Linked DNA regions of Homo sapiens: region 1 is linked to region 2. The links come from fine-mapping of genetic effects on gene expression. A gene starts in region 2. The other region holds a variant in brackets. All regions are shown on one strand. Distances are between the middles of the regions. Region 1 holds the start of HGSNAT (heparan-alpha-glucosaminide N-acetyltransferase). Region 2 holds the start of RNF170 (ring finger protein 170).

What was found.
Region 1: its variant is fine-mapped to the expression of RNF170 in whole blood (TOPMed, PIP 0.98).

What each region holds. Positions count from the first base shown.
Region 1 is chr8:43,137,956-43,146,443 of GRCh38, reverse strand. It overlaps HGSNAT (heparan-alpha-glucosaminide N-acetyltransferase), which reads right to left and starts at 5,980. Exons shown (of 18, transcript NM_152419.3): 1 at 5,830-5,980. The coding sequence starts at 5,947. RefSeq lists silencers at 2,753-2,802, 5,001-5,380, 5,391-6,180 and an enhancer at 7,024-7,318. The variant A/G (reference allele first, on the strand shown) is at 4,853.
Region 2 is chr8:42,891,204-42,899,660 of GRCh38, reverse strand. It overlaps RNF170 (ring finger protein 170), which reads left to right and starts at 3,056. Exons shown (of 7, transcript NM_030954.4): 1 at 3,056-3,177. It overlaps HOOK3 (hook microtubule tethering protein 3), which reads right to left and starts at 2,683. Exons shown (of 22, transcript NM_032410.4): 1 at 2,473-2,683. The coding sequence starts at 2,529. It overlaps MIR4469 (microRNA 4469), which reads left to right and starts at 3,386; the gene lies at 3,386-3,464. RefSeq lists silencers at 2,065-2,124, 2,135-2,924, 3,105-3,464, 3,260-3,471 and an enhancer at 3,378-3,939.

The DNA of each region.
Region 1 (8,488 bases), 250 kb before region 2:
AAGTTCAAGCTTTCTCCCCTACCACGTTACTGAGCTGCGATTGTAGCCAGGCAGCTTGTTAGAAATGCAGAACCTGCTTGAGTCAGACAGGTTAGCGAGGCCCAGGGGCGGGGTGCACGTGTCTTGAAAGTTTGAGAAGTGCTGCTTTCTATCACTTTGTTTTGGAGTTTGGAATATCCTAATTTCCATGGCAGATCGGAGAGGGGTAAGCAGACAGTTTTAAGACAAGCCTCAGTCTGAAGGGCAGAGAAACTCACTGCTCCTGGATTGGGAGCAGTGAATCCTGGATTGGGAGCATGCCCCAATCCAGAAACTCACACAGCTCACCAGTTCACTAGATGATGTGCTGAGGATGACAGAAAGATGACGCACATTCTAAAATCACGTGTGCCAATTTGGTAGGAAAAATAAAGTGAACTGCTCTTGTCTAAAAGTCAAAGCAGAGTGGTTCATGTCAACCAACTGGGCCATTTATATGATATTATATAAAAGAGAAGTTAATTTATCCTCTGAGTAAATTTACCCAAAAGAAAAAAATGGGGAACTACTTAATAACACAATGAGGAAGGTAAGAACTCGGTCTCTATTTTGTAATGGGAAAGCTTCCTCTGGGCTCCCTAGTCACTCATTTGAATGGCAGAATCATGAATTCTTCACGTAGCCAGCTCAATCCCTCTTTCTTTCTTTTTTTTTTAAATGGAGTCTTGCTCTGTCACCCAGGCTGGAGTGCAGTGGCGCGATCTCGGCTCACTGCAACCTCTACCACTCGGGTTCAAGCCATTCTCCTGCCTCAGCCTCCTGAGTAGCTGGGACTACAGGCACGCACCACCAAACCCAGCTAATTTTTGTATTTTTAGTAGTGACGGGGTTTCACCACATTGGCCAGGATGGTCTCGATCTCTTGACCTCGTGATCTGCCTGCCTCGGCCTCCCAAAGTGCTGGGATTATAGGCATGAGCCACTGTGCCGGGCCTCAATCCCTCATTTTTAAGTTTATCTTACTTTACCCTTATTTAGCTCTCAGTGAAGACAAGCCCTGCAGTATAAAACTCTTAATCCACTAGAGCTGGCTTTTCCTTGGTGATGAAGGGGTAGAGATTGAGCCATGGGGATGCTTTAGGTTAAAGAATGCTTTTTTTTGGCCATCATGAGGATCTAACAACAGAGTAGAAGGAAGGATGCCCTAGGTCAGCACGCAGGGTGGTGGGAGGGCTTTCATCTTCCTTACCCAAGCCTCTCTTTTCACTTTTCTAGAAGTTCGGAAGTTGTTATATGATGAAATAGCCTCCTTTAACGTTTATTTCTGGGTGCCAAGGGAGGCCCATTCCTCTAACATTCTGATAATTCTTCTCAAAGGCCTATGATCTAAACATTTCACCATGGCATCCACTTAGCTGTGAGGCTGCATACACAGTCTCCACCTCTGAAATCTGAACTTCATTTACCAGTGGTGCTGTTTGAACTTCATAATGCCAGCACTTCCTGAACACTTACTGTGTGCCTGGCTTGTGTTCCTGAGTGCCTTATATCACAAGGAAACGGCAAAATCAGGGGACTGGTGTAAGTGGTGAAGCTGGGCTTGAATCTAAGCTTTGTCTTCAGAGCCAGTACCCCTAACCTCTCTTTCTGTAAAACATTACTTTTCAAAGAATGAAGTTGTAGCCAAATCTTGAAATTTTTCATTTACCCTAAGTGAGAACAAATAAAGCTTTCAGCAAAATAATAATAATAATAATAATCCACTATAGCTTTTGGTTCTCTAGGCCAAAGAAAGCTTTCACAATCATTTTTTCTGTTCTTTGGTCTCCTGGAAAGCTTTCAGTGGAAGCGATGTTTGGGACCTGGAGTATGACATAGTGGGATAAATTCAAGTTAAACTTGAATCTGAAGCCCAACTTGCCTCAGTTTCCTCACCAATAAATTAAGGGTCATAAGAGTATGTGCCTCATGAAACCGTTGGGAAATCTAAACTTGACCATCTACAAAGTGGCTGGCACAGAAACAAGTGCTCAACACATAGACATTACAGTGATCCAGGCCACATCCAACCAATGCAGAGACCAACAGAGCCTCTTCAGGATCGGGAACATCCAGTTAAAATTTTTTTTTTTTTTTTTTTGAGACAGAGTCTCGCTCTGTCTCCCAGGCTGGAGTGCAGTGGCAAGATCTCGGCCCACTGCAGCCTCAACCTCCTGAGTTCAAGCAATCCTCCCACCTCAGCCTCCCAAGTAGCTGGGACTACAGGGGCATGCCAGCACATCCAGCTAATTTTTTTTTGTCTTTTTTTGTAGACACAGGGTTTCACCATGTTACCTAGGCTGGTCTCAACTTCCTGGGGTCAAGTGATCTGCCCACCTCGACCTCCCAAAAGTGCTAGGACTACAGGCGTGAGCCACCACACCGGGCCCAAGAGTAAAATCTTTAACCAAAAACAGGCTTTTGAATAGCTTCTGATATGCATTACAAAATTTCTCTCCAATTCAGTTGTGCTGATTTCTAATGACAACTGTGATGGTTGAGATCTCCCAGGTAATACAAAGAACCACACTTACCAAAGAACCACCAGGCCCCAAGAGCCCTATGAAATAGCTCCTGGTGGGCCAGGCACGGTGGCTCACACCTGTAATCCCAGCAGTTTGGGAGGCTAAGGAGGGTGGATCATGAGGTCAGGGGATTGAGACCATCCTGGCTAACACGGTGAAACCCCATCTCTACTAAAAAATACAAAAAAAAAAAAAATTAGCCAGGCGTGATGGTGGGTGCCTATAGTCCCAGCTACTCGGGAGGCTGAGTCAGGAGAATGGTGTGAACCCAGGAGGCGGAGCTTGCAGTGAGCTGAGTTCGCACCACTGCACTCCAGCCTGGGCGACAGAGCGAGACTCTGTCTCAAAAAAAAAAAAAAGAAAGAAAGAAATAGCTCCTGGTGTCTCCATTTTGGGATGAGGCATCTGAGGCCTGAAGAGGTCAAGCAGCTTGCCCAAAGTCACCTACTAGCAGCCAGGATTTAAGCTGAGGTCAGTCTAACTGTGCACATAACGGCTAACCAGTCTCCTGAGCCTCAACAGATCCCTCCCTATAAGCCCAGCCAGATTAGCCTTTCCATGTTTCCCTCATATGTTAGCCTGGTGGATAGAAAATGGCACGTCCTAATTATTTTAGTTTTGAATTTGTGATTAACAAGTTTGAACATGTTTTCCAAATGTTTACCATCAGTATGTGACTTTCATATTAATTCCTGAATCATTTATTTATTTAACCACCTTTATTTAATCCCTGACACCTTCTGAGGTATTTGCATAACTTCTCTACATTAAAGACAAAAATATTAAATCCTTTGTCAATTTGTCATCGTTTTAAAATAGTTCTTTTTCATTTCCCTTCTTCAGTTTTAATGGCTTCCATTTTCACATTTCTAGTCACTCTCTGTAGACTTTTTCCTACACTTGATCATACCCAAGAGACCATGAAGCCATGAGCTTTTCCTTCGTAATTTCTCCACACATCATCATCCCTTCGTAGATGGAATAAGTACTGTGTGTACTCATGTTTCTCTAAGCCTTTGGTGGTGGGCGGAATAAGGTACTTGTTTTATACTTAGATTATCCACACGAATTTTAGGCTGAAAGCTCTTCATTGTCATTGTTACTAACTATGCTATTTGGGAATGTGCAGAGGGGCTCAGTCTTCATTGAATGTCAAAATTACCTGAGGAAGCTCTAAAAAAACTACAAAAGTTACCAATGCCCTGGCCCCATTCCAGACCAATTAAATCAGAATCTCTGCCCAATCAGCATGATTTTTTTAATTTCCCACAAAAAACAACGAACCTCCCAAAGGGATTCGAGTGTGCAGCCGAGGGTGAAGACCACAGCTAGGGAACCACAGCTAGAGACTGTCAGAGTAACGCCAGCGGATTTTGACACCTTTTTTTTTCACTTTGCATTATTTGAATGTGGTTTTTAAAAATAATAATAACAGTCTGTATCACTTACAGACACGACCAAAGGACCCAATTACTAAGCCATCAAATAAGTCATCAAATATGACCTCGAAACTGAGCTTGATGTTCAGCTTCAAGAAAAAGCTGTCACCTTCCCACACAGCAGCTGACCTAAGAAATTCCAGGGCAATACCCCCAGAGCGTTACAGACAAAAGAACAATTATTTCCTTCTCTCTCCTCTGGTCTACCTCGTCTTGGTGGGCAAATTACCAAATAAAGTCACCTTCCAATGGTGCGGGGATAAATGTGCTGCTTGTGTATTACACCTTTATTTCCTTTCCAAATATTTAATTTCTGGTCTAGCTCTCTGCTCGTGAGTTATCTTTGCTGGGCATATTTTTAAAGACATAGTCTACTTTTTTTTTTCTTCAAGCAAATGCTGAATTTTCAAAAAGAAGGAAGATGATGACGTTTTTAGTAGGAAAGCTGTGCGGCCCAAACATGGGCTCCAGGTGACAGGGAAAGCCTTGCGGTCCCAACGCGGCTTCCCCTCACTACGTGTGATTACTATTTACAAACCACCTCTCTCTAAAAGTAAGTGCCCTTTGATAAGCTAATACTGGCGCTAAAATGCAAAGAGTGTTCGGCGGGATCAGTCCCTGACAAATTGTGATCAGGCAGATTACATAACCTCCCCGGGGTCCTTGCAATTTTAAAGGAGGGGAGCGCAGGAGATGAAGGTTGGGTGGATCAAGGATCGCACAAAATGTAATCCTCTGAGCCGCTTTTCCAAAATTCACAACGCCTTTCTCCTCCAGCTTCTGCTTGGAGAGGAGGGGTCGTTTGAACTCCATACACAGACACTAAAACTTCGTATTCTGACCAAGAAAAGGGCGCGAGAGGGGAAAGAC[A/G]GGTGACTCCCACCGTCCCTCCTACCCAAAGGGGTTTGCGATGCTTGCCCGACCCCTCTGGGAGGGGCGTGTGCGAAGGACCTAGGGCCTGGGGCTCCCCGGTGCAGGGGTCTAGATGGAGACCTGGAATCTGTATTTGTCACCGTTTTCCCCACCGAGTTCGGAGAGCAAGCCAGTTGTGCAATCACGGTATGAGCTGAGCGCCTCTTAAGCCAGCGCACCGGACAAACGCCCGGGGTCCGGGGCCCGGGGCAAAAGCGCCCAGCCCGGCCCCTCCCAGGCGGCGGCGGCGGCGGCGGCGGCTTCCCAGTCACCCTGGAGGGAAAACGCGCCGAGGGGAGACGCGCGGAGGGCTCGCCCGGGACCGGGCTGCAGGCCGCGCCCCCACCGCCTTCTCCGCGGTTCCTCACCCGCCGCACATCCACGCAGGTTCAACCCCAGCGCGGGGCGAACGCGCGTCCCGGCCCCAGGCTTCCCACCCGCTGAAGCCAATGGGTCGCACGGCTCCGGCGCCACGTCCTCGGGGGCGAGGCCCTCAGGGAAGGGACCCTGCTCTAAGTCCCTCCGAACAGTGGACTGGGTGCAGGGGGAGTCCGAGCCCCCCCGATCCTCGGCTGGCCCGCCTCCTGGCTGCCAGTTTGTGGGGTCCCGGCGTCCCGATCCGCGGCCTCTGTTTAGACGGAAGGCGCCAGGACGCAGGCTCCGCTGGGGTGGGCGCCGCCTGGGCGCCCAGGTTCCACTCCGCCGCGGTCCGAACCGCCCCCTCCCCCGCCTCCGCGGGGCCCGGCCGCAGCACCCCGAAGTCCGGCCTCCGGTCTGGGGCGCGGGACCGCGAAGTCGCAGCAACAGCCCAGGCCACGGGGGCGGTTCCGGCCCGGCCTAGCGCTCGGCGCCGCGCACGGAGATAGGGGCGGCGCCGCGGAGAGGAGACGCTGCGCTCGTAGCCGGCCGGGCGGCGGTAGGAGGTGTGCACTCACCTCGTGGCGGCGCGGCCTGGGCATCGCGCCCCGAAGAGCCGCCGGGGGCCAGCAGCGCGGCGCTCAGCACGGACGCGGCCAGCAGCAGCGCGGCCAGCGCCCTGCCCGCCCCGCTCATGCCCGCCGCCCGCTCGGCCGCCCTTGCCTGCCCGCTGCGCCCCGCCCTGCGCTGCTCCGCCGCGGACGCCCGCGCGCCCGTCATCGCCCCCTCCGCTGCCGTCACCGCCGCCTGAGTCACCGCGGGAGGCGGAGGCGCCCGGGAGCCGCGGGCGGGGGAACCTAGGGGCTGGGCCGGGCCATGCTAGGCCCTGCCTTGAGGGAGCTGGCCAGGAAAGAAGCCGAGGCTCTGCGCCCCTGCGTTGGGAGTGTTTGTCTTCGGGAGGAAAAACAGCCGGAAGAGAGGCCCCTGCAGGCCAGGAGCCTTCTTCCCTCGCCCCACCTTCTCCAGCCGCATTCTGCCAAACTCCCGCCCCCGCCGGCCACCCTCCGCACGGGTGTTAGAGCCCTCGGTCCCTGTTTTGGAAAACGCCTCAATAAGCAAGACTGCAAAGTCCCTGCCCCCAAGGCGTTTATTACCCAGAGGGAGAGGCACGACTTAGAAGCCACCAAGCGGCCCCACCTCTTGAAAGAGCCCCCGGCCAGGCTGACGAAGTGGAAGGGAGCAGGTCGAGGAGTGTGCACACCCATTCTTGGCTGTATGCCGGGAGACACTATCGCAGGTATAAGGGACAGGTACAGTAATACCTATAGCAGAGGTGCTTGTAATTGCAAAACCTTGTCAACAAGCTGAATGTCCGCCAGCGAGAAAACAAACTGCCCCACAGCAGGGGAAGTGCTCTACAGCTTCCCGCATCCACATGGATAAATCTCAAAACACAAGGCTGGGGAAAATGCAAATTGCAGAATGCCTTTTTAATATATAAAGCAAAACAATAATGTATGTTGTTTAGGGACATCCATATATGTAATAAAAATACAAAGGCACACATGAAAATGTTGCGGGACTTTTCCTTAGTTCAGCTAAAGACGGTGGAGGTCCTTGTCACACGCCAGGAAAGATTAGGCTCGCAGACAATTTGAAGGGTAAGGCAGGGTTTTATTGGGTGTAAAGGAAGAAAAAGGGGAACAGGGACTCAGCAGAGCCAGAGTTCTCCTAGTTGTAGGCTTCCCACCTCACAGATTAAATCCCAGGTTCTCCCGAGGAAGAGGAGGGCCAGGCTCCTCCCAGCTGCAAACTGAGGAGCGAACTTCTGTGGCTCCACCCCAGAGCAGTGCACAGGCCAGTTGGAGTTTTACCAGGGAACCCTTCCCATCTGGCTCATTCCTCGCTCTAAAGAAGTCTATCTAACTGCCACTAGGATAAGAATAGGGACAAAGACAGATCTTAACTGCTTCCTGCTGATAGGGGGCACTGTTTCGGGAAAATGGCAATCAGATCTCCCTCAGAGGCCTATCTAAGGGTGCCCAGCAGAAGGGGCCATGGTCCGAGCTTCCAGTAGCATGACCGTTTGATGTCCTGAAGGCAAGAAGAGACAAACTGGGTTATTAAACACATATGGCCGGGCACAGTGGCTCACGCCTGTAATCCCAGCACTTTGGGAGGCCAAGGCAGGTGGATCACGAGGTCAAGAAATCGAGACCATCCTGGCCAACATGGTGAAACCCTGTCACTACTAAAAATACAAAAAATTAGCCGGGCGTCATGGCAAGTACCTGTAGTCCCAGCTACTTGGGAGGCTGAGGCAGGAGAATCACTTGAATCCGGGAGGCAGAGTTTGCAGTGAGCCAAGATTATGCCACTGCACTCCAGCCTGGCAGGTCAGGAGTTCAAGACCAGCCTGGCCAACATGGTGAAACCCTGTCTCTACTAAAAATACAAAAATTAGCCAGCAGTGGTGGTGCCTGCCTGTACTCCCAGCTACTTAGGAGGTTGAGGCAGGAGAATCGTTTGAACGGAGGTTGCAGTGAGCCAAGACCACATCACTGCACTCCAGCCTGGGCGACAGAGTGAGACCCTGTCTCAAAAAAAAAAAGAAAAGAAAAGAAACAAGGGGAGGGATAAGGACAGCTCAAAAATCCTGAGGCTTTTTACCAATTTGTACACGGAGAAGGGGGCCAAAAGTCCGAATGGTAAACAACTTTACCCTTTTGCTGGCATGTTGGGCTTCTGGGTTCCCTTCCCCTGAAACCAATCCTAAGCCAGCCAGTTTAAGGTTTAGGAAATTAACTCTTTCCAGTTTGGAAAATGCATCTGAGGGGAGTGTCCCATAGTATGGAGACACAATTAGGATTGTCATTGTGAACCGAGGAGGAGAAAGGAAAAAAGAAGGCATTTTTTCAAAGGAATCCGAAGGGTTCCAGATGCATTTGAAAGTGGTGCAGACTGAAGATAAATGGCTACCCACATAGAAAGAGGGGAGCAGGCATCCCTGGTTCTTTTCCTAGCAAATACCTGGGGTACGTGAGGGATAGAAGGAATAGCGTCCTCTTCCATCCTTGCATCCCCATGCAACCTTCGAAAGTGCTACCATGGGTGCCAAAATGGCTTGCATCCATGAAGCAGGGGTCTAGAGGGTGGGAATTATCTCCTCTACCCATGAATGCCCTATCACCCCTGCTGTCAGTAGTCTTGGAGTTCCCTAGACCTCACTTATGCTCA
Region 2 (8,457 bases):
TAAATGAGTCTTTTCTTTGGAGTGTATGTGTACATTTTTGCTTGCATTTGGTTTTAGAATTGTGCTTAGCATTAATCTGGCTTACAGATAGGAGGGGTGATATTATACATTTAAATGTCATCAAACATTGCTCATTGAAACATTTATTCTGCTTTTTATAATGACAGCTAAAAGAGAACAAACCCAGCATTTAAACTCTATTTTGAAACATGTCTTTTAAAGTGTTTCCAAATTTTAGAACTGTACATCTTCATGAACACTGCCCTCCAATTTTGTCACTGATAATCTCTAATCTTATCCAGAAATTCTCATTGATGAGTTTCCAGTGACATTTCAAAAAGCCTATTCTACAATACTATACTCCCTGACCTCTCTACAGCTGATAATGTGGATTACTCGTTTTCTTGACATTTTAGGAGATTCTAAATAGATTCTCTCATGTTGTCAGGTTCTGTCAGCAGGCCTTCAAACTTCTAAGATTTCTCCTGTATATTTTTATCAGCATTTCTCACTTAAATAAATGCAATTACTACCTACCATATTTTGTGGATACCCTTCAAATACAGACGGTCCCCAACTTAGGATGGTTTAACTTAAGACTTTTCAACTTTACAATGATGCAAGATACACATTCAGTAGAAACCATACTCTGAGTGCCCATACAACCATTATATTTTTCATTTTCAGTACAGTGTTCAATAAATTGCATTAGATATTCAACAATTTATTATAAAACACGTTTTGTGGTAGATGATTTTGCCCAATTGTAGGCTAAGGTAAGTGTTCTGAGCACGTTTAAGGTAGACCAAGCTAAGCTACCGTTTGGACGGTTAGGCGTATGAAATGCATTTTCAACTTACGGTATTTTCAACTTATGATGGGTTTACCGGGATGTAACCCCATCGCAAGTTAAGGAGCCTCTGTACACCTCTTTATTTCCATGTCTTCTTTCTCCCTAGATTTTAAACAATGTAGCCCTACTTAGATTCAATTAGCTTCATCTTTGCCTTCTGGCTGCTTCTTCTAGCATAAAGGGAAGCACTACTTGCACAGTCTCAAAAACTTAAATCTTAAGTTCCTCAGCATTCTGTTTACAGATGTACAGATTCTGCCAAATCTATTCCTTCCACAACATCAAAGAATTTAGTAATTCTTTCCTCTCTCTCTCTCCCCTGCCTAGTCAGAAACCTCAGCCACATTATACAACTTACCAGTCTTCCTCTTTTCTGAAATACAGCAGTGAAAGCCATCTCCTTGCCTGGAGGGAGAACTCATCAGAAGGGTAAGCTGCACGCTAACTACATACTACTGCTAACGATCTGAAATCCCCTAAATGGTCTGATATGCAACTGGCTACTCAAGCTCTACCAAGTCTGTTTCAGAGGACAGAAATTGATTCGTGACGTAGCCAAACTATAAAAACCTCAGACTATTTTTATTAATTTTTTTAACAACCAACGTAAGGCAATACTTCTCCAGCCTTTCCAGCAAAGTGCCTTGCACAGGATCGTGACGTCTACACTCCAGGGATCCTGACTCGTAACCCAAGACACCGCTAAAGAGAATTTCTCTCACATTCGTGTTTTACCTTTAAAAGTAATACAAATGCTGTAGTAGCCTTCATAAACACATCCGTAAACATTTAATTAACATTCTCAGCAATGAGTGAAACGGAGGCTCCCGAAGGCAGCGCGGGGTCCGCCCGGGCTCTGCGCATCCCTCCCCCTCCCCGGCCGCGCCGCGGCGAGAACGACTGGAACCCGGGCGTCGGTTCCCCTGCCGCGTCCTGAAGACCCGGCTTCAGGAAGGCGCGGCAGCTGACGTGAGAGGTGAACATGTATTTACTTCAAAGTATGAGGAATCTAAAACCGTTTAAGAATTCAAAATCAGAATCCCACGACTCTGTCCCCCAAGGCCTTCGAGTTCCATTGTTGACGCCCAGACACCTCCAGACTCCTTTAAACGTCTGCCCGACGCCTCTGACAGGCGTCCGCCCCTCGCGCACTCCCACCGCCAGCGGTGCCTTGCATCCGAAACGGGGTCCCCGGGCGCCTCCCGCATTCTCCCCACGCTCCCTCACAGGTCCTTTCAGTTCCCGGGCCGGAGCCGGGCCCGTCCTCCGCGAACGCGGCAACAAAGGCGAGGAGCGGCGGCGGGTCCTGGACGCGGGGCAGTCAGGCTCGGCCACCCCCAGAGCGCAGCGCAGCCCCAGCTGCGAGCAGCCGCACGGATCCCAGAGTCGCCCGCCGCGTTCCCAGCCCAGCCCCGGCCGGGGTCCGCCCGGAACAGCGACGCCTCAGGCCCGGCAAGTCTCTCTCGGACCCTGGGCCGAGCCTCCTCGCCCCGCCCGCCCCAGGCCCCGGATGTGACGGCACCGTCGCCCGCAGCGCTCGCCCCACGGGCCGCGCGTGGAGGGTCCCGGTAGGTGGCGGGGGGAGGGGGTCTTCCCGCCGGCCCGCGGCCCCCACGTACCCAAGTGAGGAGGCTCTCGCACAGCTCCGCCCGCTCCAGCGACTCTACGCTGAACATCTTCCCCGCCGCGGCCAGGCAGCGCCTACCGCCTGGCCAGACACCGCCGCCGCTCTGTCGGGGGATCCGGGGGCCCGCGCAGCTGACTCGGCCTCAGGCCCGCCTGCTCCTCGGATCCGGCCGCCGACTCTCGCCCAGCGCTGGCAGCGGCTCCGCACCGTCACCCCCAGCGCCCCTCCTTCTCCTTTCACTCGGGACCGCGCGCCAGCCGCGCGCGACTTCGGACACGCCCGCCGCCCCGCGTCCCCGCCCCCGGCCGCCCACACCGCTCCTCCCCAGCGCCGCCGCCCTGGCTGGAGCCGAGGCCGAGGAGCCACTGCGCACGCTCGCGCCCCGGCCGACCCGCGCCGCCGCGCCGCCGCCGCCGCCGCCGCCGCCGCCGCTGCCGCCGGGCGCGCCCCCGCCACCAGTTCGCTGCGTGTCGAGGCGAGCACGCGCTCCGCCCTGGAGGCTGCGGCGACGGGTCCTCCTCCGCCGTCCGGTCGCGCCCTCGCGGAAGCTCGGCAGTGCGCGTGCGCCCGCACCCGCACTCCAAATTAGAAAGGGGACGTCTAGTGGGTTGCCCGGGAGGGGTGGCGGGAGCGGTCCTGGAAATAATCTGTCCTCTGTCGCCGGGAACTGGCGAGGTAGTTCCTTCGCGGTGGAGAGGTACGTCCGGCGCGCGGCGGCCACGCCCACCCTATCGGGGCCCGCGGAGCCGCGGACGGCGGGGTCTGGCCTTCTTGGGGTAGCTCTGGCCGCCGAGGCTCTGCGGGGCGGCGGGAGTCGCCGCCTCCTTCCCCCCGGGCCCCTCCCTCGTCTGGAAGCCCCAGAATCGCCCCGCGGCTGTCCGGAGTCGCCGGCGACGGTGGAGGGGCCGACGCGGAGAGCGGCTCTAGGTGGGTTTGGCGGCGGCGAGGACACCGCCGCTCCCTCTAGGGTCGCTCGGAGCGTGACCCTGAGAACTCTCCTTAATGCAGGAGGGGTGTGCGCCCGCTCGCCAATCCGTAAGGACACCGGCCGACCCCGGGCCTGCGTTTCTCAGCGTTCGGAGTTGCCTTCGCTTAATGGCGAGGCGGATCGTTCTGGAGCTTCCACCTCTTTAGAGGCACGAATCTGTCTGCTGGGCTGCCGATAAATTTTTAACAGATATAGCATACGCAGAAAAGTGCATACGACATACACGTTTAAAGAAGAATTAATAAAACACCCAGATAAAAACGAAAAGGGCATTACCGGCACCCCAGGAGTTTCTCACCCATGCCCTGTGCTCCTTTCGGAGCCTGATTGTCTCCTAGCCTGACTAGTGTGATCATTTCCTTACAGCTTTACCATCTATGTGTGCATGCGATGTCGTTTTCCTTTGCCTGTTTTTGAACTTTTGCGGGTGGATCACAGTGTGTTGTTTTGTGGTTTTCAATCAGTATTAAATTGGTGTACTGTGTATGTATAGGTAATTTTAATTGTTGCCTAGTATTCCAGTGTGAATAGAACAGTGAATCCATTCTACTCTGGTTGGGCATTTTGTTCAGACTGAGGCCACTCAGAACATGGCTATAAACATTCTAGTGTACCTGGAACGTAGTGCAAATATGTTGGAATTTCCAGGACATGCACTTTGGAGTCCTTAGAGAATTGTCGATGCGTAGAGTATGCATAACTACCACCCAATGCCAAATTTTTATTTGGAGTGCAACAAAGCTAACTTCCCAAGACACACTTTGCTTTGTAGTTCCTGGAACCCCTTTCCCCCACTTTTTTTCCATTAAGAGTAGGTTTTCTCATTGAGCACTGAAAACTGCCAAGACAGCATTGAGTGGGGTTTTTTGTTGTTGTTGATGGTGGTTTTTGAGAAAGGGTCTCGTTCTGGAGTGCAGTGGCGCAATCTTGGTTCACTGCAACCTCTGCCTCCTGGGCTCAAGTGATCCTCCTACCTCAGCCTCCCAAGTAGCTGGAACCACAGGTGCAGGCCACGATGCTCAGCTAATTTTCTTATTTTTTGTAGAGAGGGGGTCTCGCTATGTTGCCCAGGCTGGTCTCAAATTCCTGGGCTCAAGTGATCCGCCCGCCTTAGCCTCCCAAAAGTGCTGGGATCAAAAGTGTGAGCCACCGAGCCTGGGTCAGCAGTGAGTTTTTAAGGTTGCCTTACAGAGTACCACTTGATAGTTGACCCCTGATCATTTAGCATTTTGTAAGTGTAAAAAAAAAAAAACTTACCTGAAGTATTCTCAATGGTCTTTTTTTCAAACATTCTTCCCTACACCAAGGGCAGAGAAACCTTTAGAAATTACACATACGTGGCCAGGCGCGGTGTCTCGCGCCTGTAATCCCAGCACTTTGGGAGGCCGAGGCGAGCGGATCACGATGTCAAGAGATCCTGGCCAACATGGTGAAACCCCGTCTCTACTAAAAATACAAAAATTAGCCGGGCGTGGTGGCGGGCTCCTGTAGTCCCAGCTACTCGGGAGGCTGAGGCAGGAGAATCGCTTGAACGCGGGAGGCTGAGGTTGCAGTGAGCCGAGATCGCGCCACTGCACTCCATCCTGACGACAGAACGAGAATCTGTCTCAAAAGAAAAAAAAAATTACACATGTGTGTCTCGCCTGTGTTTGGTTCCTGTGTTGGTGCCTCTGGATATTTGTCAAACTAGAGTTCCTACATTCCTTATCAGGTTATTTCTGTCGAATCTCTAGCACTTTTAAGTGACGTATAATCTTGTAGGCAAGTGAATGAAGTCAGTGAGTATATGTCACATTGACTTACTCCTGACTCACATGCAGCTTGTCTTTAGATGGGCAGATAAGATGCTGGCCCTACTGGAGCGACTGTGGTTGTGCCGTCCTGAGCACCCTTCCTCCAGTGGCCCCGGTTTTCAAGGCTTTGACACAATGGACCTAAAGTCTCCTTTTTCAAGCTTGGCTGCATATCCACAGTGCTTTTGTGCATGATGTTACGTTGTTCTGGAGGTTTCATTTTGTAATTCCAGTTACCTTTGATGAAAGAAATTAGTAAAAACTTTTTGGATGTGAGTAATTGCAGAAGCCATGTGGCTGCTGAGTTTCTACGTAAGCCTTGGGGTAAAAAGACACTGAGATTCTCTCCTTTGTTCCAGGAAGTCCCGGAATTTCCTATTTTTCTATTTTCTCTGTGTGTTTTATTTTTTTTCCTTCCCTGAAAGCTTTGGAAATGCCTGAGGAGAGGTGAGTTGAACTTGTCTTAGCTGTCTGGTTACTCCGGTTAGTTGGAGGCTAGTTCTCACCCACAGCTGCTTATCAGATTAAAGAGGGCATGTCCTGTGTGACAGTGCTCCAGATTGCATCCTGTCTTCCCAGGGAACACATACTTAGAGCTGTGATTAAAGAGAGTTTGAGATGCTATGTGGAGCAGCTCTGGGGCAGGCATGGCTAGTTTTTATCATATCAAAACATGGCTAGTTTTATCATGATTCCTTGGCGGTTGTTAATAATATTAACCAAACACTGTAGCTTCCATTTACTGAGAGCCTATATGATGTGCCAAGCAGTATGCTAAATGCCTTACCTTCATTATCTCATTATAAACTTCACAAGGCAAAGCACTTCCCCTGCCACACCCGCCCCAAAAAAGAGTGGCAGTTTGATATGGTTCAACCTAATGCCTTTTACGTATGAGGAAGCTGAGACTGAAACTTTATGTAAGTCCAGGGCTGTCTGACTCTGGAACTTGTGCTTGTTTGCTGTCTGAAGATACTGCTCAATAAGATGTAGCCAGCTGAGCAATAGCAAAGCCAGTTTCTCTGCAAACTTCTATCAGTTACACTGCACAGTTTCCAAGATGGATGGGGTTCAGTTTTTGTGAATCTTAAACAGTTCAAAACCGAGTATTAGTAACTCTTCTTTTCATATTTTACAGGATACCATGAAATAGATTACATCCCATGTTCTATACATTTAATAACCTTGTTTTTGGGTTTAATGTAAACAACCTTTAGTGGCCACTACAACATGTAAGACCCTGCGCACTACTAACAGTAATAAGATATGATTCCTGACTGAAAGGAATTCATTCTTTAAAAATGTATTTTTAATTTTTATAGATGTATAATAGTTGTACATATTTATGGGGTACCTGTGGTATTTTTATACAAATATGTACAATGTGTAATGATCAAATCTGGGCAGTTTTTTGAGACAAGGTCTTGTTCTGTCACCGAGGCTGGAGTGCAGTGGTGCGATCTTGGCTCACTGCAACCTCTGCCCCCCAGGTTCAAGCAATTCTCATGCCTCAGCCTCCCGAGTAGCTGGGATCACAGGCGTGTGCCACCACGTCTGGCTAATTTTTGTATTTTTAGTAAAGATGGCGTTTCACCATGTTGGCCAGGCTGGTCTCAAACTCCTGGCTTCAAGTGATCCACCCACCTTGGCATCCCAAAATGCTGTGATTACAGGCGTGAATCACAGCACTGGCCTGAATCTAGGGTTTAAAAAAAAAAAAAAAAACGCTGCAACAGAGCCTCCAAATAACATGAAAAAATAAATCCAGTAAGATATTACTTTATATGCTTGGAACTAAGTGCTTAACATTCTGTGATTAATAATAATAAAATTTTGAGGGTGAAGCAATTGAGCACAGTATCTACATATTCTAAAACTGAACTGTAGTCACTTGTGGATTCTGTAAATATTTGGCACCAATAAACATTAATTTTTGGCTGGGCGTGCTACCTCACGCCTATAATCCTAGCACTTTGGGAGGCCTAGGTGGGTAAATTCCTTGACCCCAGGAGTTGGAGACCAGCTTGGGCAAGATGGTGAAACCCATCTCTACAAAAAATAAAACATTTAACTGAGCTTAGTGGTGCACACCTGTAGTCACAGCAGGAAGACTGATTGAGCCTGGGAGGTCGAGGCTGCAGTGAGCCAAGGGTGCACCACTGCACTCCAGCCTGGGTGACAGAACAAGACCCTGTCTCAAAAAATAAATTTTAAAAATTTATAAACATTAATTTGAGCAATATCTGTTTTTCAAGAAGGAAATTTGTGGTGTAGTGAGAGTGTTTAGCAGTTGACATGCCAGTCATGCCACTTAGGTCAGTGTAGGTGCCTCCGGAGTAGGCACCGTCAGGAAACTGAGCGACTGGGTGGTAGATGAGAATGGGCATTGACCGGGCATTGAAGCTCAGTTTGCATATCGAGAGAGGAAGCAAGTATTGGCTTTATTTTTCTTGTTAAAGTAATTCATACTTGAAAGAATTGAAACTGTGAAACTGTGTCCTAGGGAGGGTGATGGTCTGGTTTTGCCAGTCCAGCTTCTCACTGATAACCACTCTAATGTTAGCTTTGATGTGGCTTTTTCTCTATTCCGAAACTCTGAATCAGAGAAATTTAGCAGTAGAAGGAAGTGAAGAAATAAAGTCACAGTTGTTAACCTAAAATAATTTAAAAGGTCAAAATCGAGTTTAAAGAGAGTTTAAGTGTAAAGGTTGAGGACAGGCCACCTGGGAAAGGACAGATTTAAAAGCATGGAAGTCAGTGCTCGTCAGTATAGACATTTGGGATTGTTTATATAGACAAAATTTAGGGACATTTAACAGAATTTTAATATCTTAATGTAAGGCTTAATGTACAGTTATAATGATCTGATTAGTCAAGGTGCGTTTTTTAGGGAAGAAAGAATGTAACTGTCATGAGACCCCTGTTTGGGGCACCATCTGGTCTGAGTTAGGTACAGGACAATAAAGGAGGCAGTTAATCTGTAATAAAAATCAGCAATTAGAAGGAGGAGATCTGGTCTCTTTTAAAAAAAAGACTTAGTCTTTTTTTAGTTGTTTATAGAACAAGAACAATGAGGAAGAGTTAAGCTAAAAATCTAAGAAACAGAATTGTAAACATGTTACGTGACCCAGATCATAGTCATATCTCTTTCAAGGCTTAAGGTGCTTTGGAGGTTCTAAAAACGTTTGAATTTTAT